2 separate regions of the Homo sapiens genome follow, and region 1 is linked to region 2. The links come from fine-mapping of genetic effects on gene expression. A gene starts in region 2. The other region holds a variant in brackets. All regions are shown on one strand. Distances are between the middles of the regions. Region 1 overlaps LOC105369401 (a long non-coding RNA gene). Region 2 holds the start of GAB2 (GRB2 associated binding protein 2).

The links. PIP is the estimated chance that this variant, and not a neighbour inherited with it, causes the effect.
Region 1: its variant is the best candidate, but not a certain one, in a credible set for the expression of GAB2 in cerebellar hemisphere (GTEx, PIP 0.60).

What each region holds. Positions count from the first base shown.
Region 1 is chr11:78,084,548-78,087,448 of GRCh38, reverse strand. It overlaps LOC105369401 (a long non-coding RNA gene), which reads right to left. Exons shown (of 3, transcript XR_950342.2): 3 at 454-1,829. Among named protein-coding and RNA genes, the nearest start is that of NDUFC2-KCTD14, 6.1 kb to the right of the region's middle. The variant C/G (reference allele first, on the strand shown) is at 1,521.
Region 2 is chr11:78,416,631-78,419,531 of GRCh38, reverse strand. It overlaps GAB2 (GRB2 associated binding protein 2), which reads left to right and starts at 1,712. Exons shown (of 10, transcript NM_080491.3): 1 at 1,712-1,886. The coding sequence starts at 1,812. RefSeq lists silencers at 1,323-1,942, 2,053-2,152, 2,223-2,352, 2,815-2,901 and an enhancer at 1,972-2,726.

The DNA.
Region 1 (2,901 bases), 330 kb after region 2:
GGAGCTCTAGACCAACCTGGGCAACATAGCAGACCCTGTCTACAAAAAATTTAAAAATTAGCCAGCATGATCGCACCACTGCACTCCAGTCTGTGTGACAGAATGAGACCCTGACTTGAGAAAAAGAAAAGCAAAATTCTAACTTGAAATATTGTCAGGTAGCGTTTTTTCTATAGAGATAAAAGGTCCATGCTTTATGTAATCACTCTTAGCTGGTATTTAATTCTTCCACTCAGGAAATCACTATCTTTGATGCATACACCTTTGCATAAACCTCTGGTTTAATCAGCCTCATTTGGATAAAATGTTTATTCTACTAATGAATGGACATGACAGGAAGACATTTTAGCTCAACATCAGGAAGGGCTTTCCAAAGGGAACTGTTCAATCTGCAGTATTAGAGGTGGGTGAGCAGATGTCACGCATGTCTGTGTGAAGACGCCACCAACAGGCTTTGTGTGAGCAACAAGGCTGTTTATTCACTTGGGTGCAAGTGGGCTGAGTCTGAAAAGAGAGTCAGCGAAGGGAGATGGGGAAGGGGTTGCCCTATAGGAGTTGGGTAGGTAATGGAAAATTACACTAAAAGGTGGTTATCTATTGTTAGCAGAGGAGGGGGGTCACAAGGTACATGGTAGGGAGATCATAAGACTCATTGTCCAGAAGAAGAATGTCACAAGGTCAATCGATCCATTAAGGTAGGGCAGGGACCAGTCACAATGGTGGAATGGTGGAATGTTGGTTAATCTGTTAAGGCAGGAACTGGCTGTTTTACTTCTTTTGTGGTTTTTCAGCTGCCCCAGACTTCTTGGCTCCTGCAGGCCATCTGGACACATATGTGCAAGTCACAGGGGTTACAATGGCTGAGCTTCGGCGCAGAGGCCTGACATTCCTGTCTTTTTATTTATAAAATATAAAGTTATAAGAAAAGATAAAGAAAATATAAGTTTTTACTGGGGATTATTGGGGCAGGGGCGATGTTTCTCAGGGCTGCTTCAGGCATGACTTAGGGGCAGCATGGACACCTAAAGAAAATTTAATTTTATAGTGAGTTGGTCTAGAAAGTTTTCGGGTACAATTTTGTGTGGCTAACAAGGCACCAGTTAGCATATTTTTGAGCTTGGAATTCTCCTAGTAGAATAAATTATCTAAAAATAGCAATTAAGCATAATAGCTTTAAGGTAGGTGGCAGTGAGTTTTTAGGCCAAGGTAGGAATAACGTTTTATATACCAAGGCCTTTTGTCCCCATTTGCCATCATATGAATAGGATCCCCTGGCATCGAGCCAAAAGTCTATTATGTTACTTTTTTCCCAAAGGTGTGAGTGGTGTTTTGAATGGAGGAGTTCAATAGTCCTTACTGCAGACCCTATACAGGAAAGACAGTAAGTACAATAGTCCCTGTCTCCTGGAATAAGTTGGGGCTGGCAAAGAGAGAAATGTCCTAGGCCTTCTAATAACCAATGACAGACCATGTGTCGTCCTGGATGTTGACCTGAGTGCCAGATATGTGGAACTGGTCCT[C/G]TATATGCATATTGCTGGTCATTTCTATATGAGTAGGCCTGAGGACCCCATGGGCAAGGATTTGACAGCTGCCACCCCAGGCATTTTAGATTTTTAATTCAGAGGTCTTTGATTTTGGGGGTGGGGAACATTTTGGAGGACAAGGCCTGAAGGAAGTTGTTTTTATAGACAGCAGGTCCTCAGAGATTATGGTTTAGAGGAACGGGTGAAGCAGGCCTGGAAGTATGTTTGGACAGCCGTTTGGAGGGGGTGTTGCACAGAAGCTTGGTCTTGTCTGGATGTTGCCAGGAGTTCATCACTGGTTTAGTCCTAAAGGTGAGAAGGAGTATAATAGGACGAGGAATAGAAGTTTAGGCTGTGGGGAGATTTTGGGGCACCGGATAGTACCATGGGGTTGTTAGAAGCAGCAACTGCAGTATGGAATGATTGGTGATGGCCTGGATGCGGTTTTGTGTGAATTGAGGGACTAAATGAAAGACAAAAGGCCCAAATAAGAGAAGGAGAAAAACAGGTACCAGGGGACTAAGAGTAGGAAGGAGCCAAGACGCCCAGTTAAAAAGTGCCCAGGTAGGTCCAGCATAATTATTTGCCTGGCTGGCGAGTTTTGGGGCCCTAACTTTAAGCTTTTTTATGTTGTCATATAGCAGGCTGGATTGATTTAGATAAAAACAACATTCTTCATTTAAAAATATGCAGAGTTCTCCTTTTTCAGCAGTGAGTAGGTCAAGGCCTTGGTGATTTTGGAGGACAACTGCGACTAAGGAACCGACCTGGGCCCGAAGGACTGATAAAGTTTGTGATATATCTGTAATGCTAGCAGGAAAGTCATTAGAAAGACAATGGAAGGTTGTGACAGAAGTTGAAATGCCAGGTAGGTCAGAGAGATACAGTCATGGGGGTCAGGTGTGGTATCAGGAATAATGTGGGAGGCCGGATTGAAGTCTGGGCCAGGAACAATGGTAATTATGGGAGACTCAACAAAGAGTGAGTATAGCTGAAGGAGCTGGAGGGGCAGAAAGTATATGCATCAGGTTTGAGGAAGAAAATAGATTTTGAAAGTTATGAGAACTGTAGAGAGTGAGTTGAGCATAGTTTGCGATTTTAAGGGCCTCTAAAAGTATTAGAGCGGTGGCAGCTGCCACACGCAAACATGAGGGCCAGCCTAAAACAGTAAGGTCAAGTTGTTCAGACAAAAAGGCTACAGGGCGCGGTCCCGGTCCTTGTGTAAGAATTCCGACCACACAGCCCTGTACTTCAGCTGTGTGTAATGAAAAGGGTTGGGATGAGTCAGGGAGAGCTAGTGTGGTAGCAGTTTCTAGAGCTGTTTTCAAGGAATGGAAAGAGGAGTGGGGAAAGGATTTAGGATCTGTGGGGTTGGCTA
Region 2 (2,901 bases):
CCATGCAGATTTCTCCGACTCTGCAATCTCTGGGACTTGGCACCATGACTCAGATGTGAATGAAGTCAGGATAGTTTTATTTTGGTTGGAAGTCACCGCCTCCTGATTGATTTGGCAGACGTTAAGTGTTGTTTGTCTTACAGGGATTTAAGGTACTTAAAGCCAGAAGTTAAAATGGCCATCATTCTGGTGGTGGCCCTTCATACGTGACTTAAGGATCCCTAAATTGTAAGGTTAAGGGAGCTGTGGTCCCAGCCTACCAGTTCTGGCTTTACTTCCCATCCAGCAGCACACTGGATATTGAAGAAAGTCAGTGAAATGTTAGATCCAGGGGACTGACCGCTAAAACTCCCAGGGTATCTAGAAGAGCTAAGTACGTGGTAGGGGATTCGCTTTTCCAAATTGAGGAGGGTGAACTTCCCCCAACCCAATCAAGATCTTTTGGACCAAATGATGTCCAACTGCTTGAAACAACTCAGCTGCACAGAGACAGAAATAAACAAAACAGCTTTAGTCTGAGGTTGTGTGGGGCACTGCAAGATGCTGCTTCTCCAATTCATCTGTCCACACAGCACGGTTCCCCATTGAATAAACAGGTTACTATCCACTTATCAGAGAAGTTAGGGAGGACCTGCCTTTTAATGCTGCTTAGAGAGACACTTTGTGATGAGAAAAGAGCTCGTACAAAAGATTTTTTTCTCCCCCCTCCCGCTGAAGTGCTGGGGTTGTGTGCTTCCACGTACATCTGGGATACCATTATATTTACAAACAGAGGTCTCATAGCCTGTGTCAATGAGCGGGAACGTTGGGGAATTTGGACCCCAATTTCTTGTTCTTCTGCACTTGACCTTGCCTTCCAATTCGTTATGAAATACATTGACTAGTTTTGCTTCTTCCATTCTACAAATCATGCGAATTTTCTATACTAAACTGTGTTTTCCCAGAGGCAGTGTAGGAGGGAGTCAGCTGGACTTGGTTTCCAGGCAATGAGAGGCTCCCAGGTCGATCCCATTAAGGCAATGCCCTCATTTTGAATAGCAGATGACCGGGACCCCTCCTCCCCCACACACCTGAATTGGAAAATTGGCTCGGCTTTGTACAAGCCCTTGCCCTTAGGCTGTCCATAAAATAGGAACAATACTGAAGACAATCCTGTAAGCTACAAAAGCAAAGGCTCCGGCGCGTAGTAGGTCCGTCTCCTCCTCCCGCCGAGGGACGCCAGAGTTAAGGAGCTTCTTGCTGGGAAGGGGTCCCTCCTTTCAGCCGGAACCTGACCCGCAGAATGTATCGGAAATGTGAGCAGCCCTAGTATCCCTTCCCCGTCGACGCTCGGTGAAAAATCGATCGACGACCGAGGGCGCGCAGTCCCTTCCCCTCACACCCGCCAGCGCCAGGGGCGCGGTCGCCTCCCTGGCCTCCGCGCCCGCGGCTTGGGGCCTCAGGAGAAAGCGAGACTCCGGGGCGCGCCGGCGGCGGTGGCTTTCTGTATCCTCGCGGGTCCCTAGCCCCGCGTCCGCGTGCGCGGCGGCCTCGGGGGCGCGGCGGGAGCGGGCGTGGCGAGCGAGCCGGCCTTCCTGCTGCAGCTGCTCCCCCGGCGGCCGGGCGGAGAGTGCGGATTGCGCGCGCTCGGGGCGGGGGAGCGGGCGCGCGCGAGGCTGCCGGGCTCGCGCCGCGCCGCGCCGCCTAGTCCCCGCCGGGCCGCCCGCCCCGCCCCTGGCCTCCCGCGAGCTGCGCACCGCCGGCCGCTGCCCCAGCTGCCCGAGCCCGCGCCCTCGTCCGCGCGACCCGGCGGGGGGCTCCAGGCCGGCAGCATGAGCGGCGGCGGCGACGTGGTGTGCACCGGCTGGCTGAGGAAATCGCCTCCCGAGAAGAAGTTGAGGCGCTATGTGAGTGCGGGCGCGGCCGCCCAGGGGCGGGCGGGGGGCGCTCCGGGGCCTGCGGAGGGGCGGGGGACTCCCGGAGGGGCGGCAGGCTGGGGAGCTCGGGCCCGGAGCCGCGGGGGGCCGGGGGCGAGGAGCGGCCGGGGGCGTGTGGGGCACCTGCACACCTGTCACAGGTGGGCCGCCGAGGGGCGGGGCGGGCGGCAGGTTGAGGCTGCGGCTCCTGCTCCGCCAGGCGGGTGCGGCTGCGGCGCCTCCCAAGCCGGTCTGCTCGTGAACTAAATACAGTGTCGAAGTTTTGTATTGATGGCTTCTGGAGACCGAGAGAGTTGACTCTCGGGGCTGGGGCTCCGCGGCAGCCCCGAGCAGCTTCAGCCCGCAGGGTCGGGGAGAGGGCGGGAAAGGGGGGCGTAGGCTGTGGGGCCGCGCGGACGGCCCCACAAAGGGCGAGCGCCTCACGCCCTCTCCTTCCCTTTCTCCGCCTGCCCCTCCCGGCCGCCGGCCTCCCTCCGTCCGCGGCTGCATCACCGGCAGCGTCAGCGGCATGTGCAGCCCTTGTATTAAGTGACTCATTTGTTTGTCCCCCTTCTTTCCCTTTATTCCGTTCGTCTCTCACAGGCGCCTCCCCCCGACCCCGGTGTGACACTGCAGTTTGGTCCCCGTGGCTGGCCCGGGTTTGGGACCGGGCAGCTCCCGGGTGTCTGGGGTCGGGAGAGATCGAGGCTCTCCGCGGCCAGGTGTTGCCAACCGACAGTGTTTACTGAGATCGCTGGAACAGCCTTTTCCCTCTAGGTGGGGAACTGGCAGCCTGGGGGAGGTGGAACAGCGTGGCGCTGAGCCGTGGAGTTCTGGCTTTTTTTTTTTTTTTTTTTAACCCCTCTCCCCAGAGGATGCCTTGCCTGGTGAGGTCAAAGTACAAGATGGTGCCAGTTACTGAGATTTGGCCGAAATGGTCTTGGGGTAGTCGCGGGAGTTTGGAAGTGGGGGTAAGGTTGCTGGAAGGTTTCAAGGTCTCTCATCT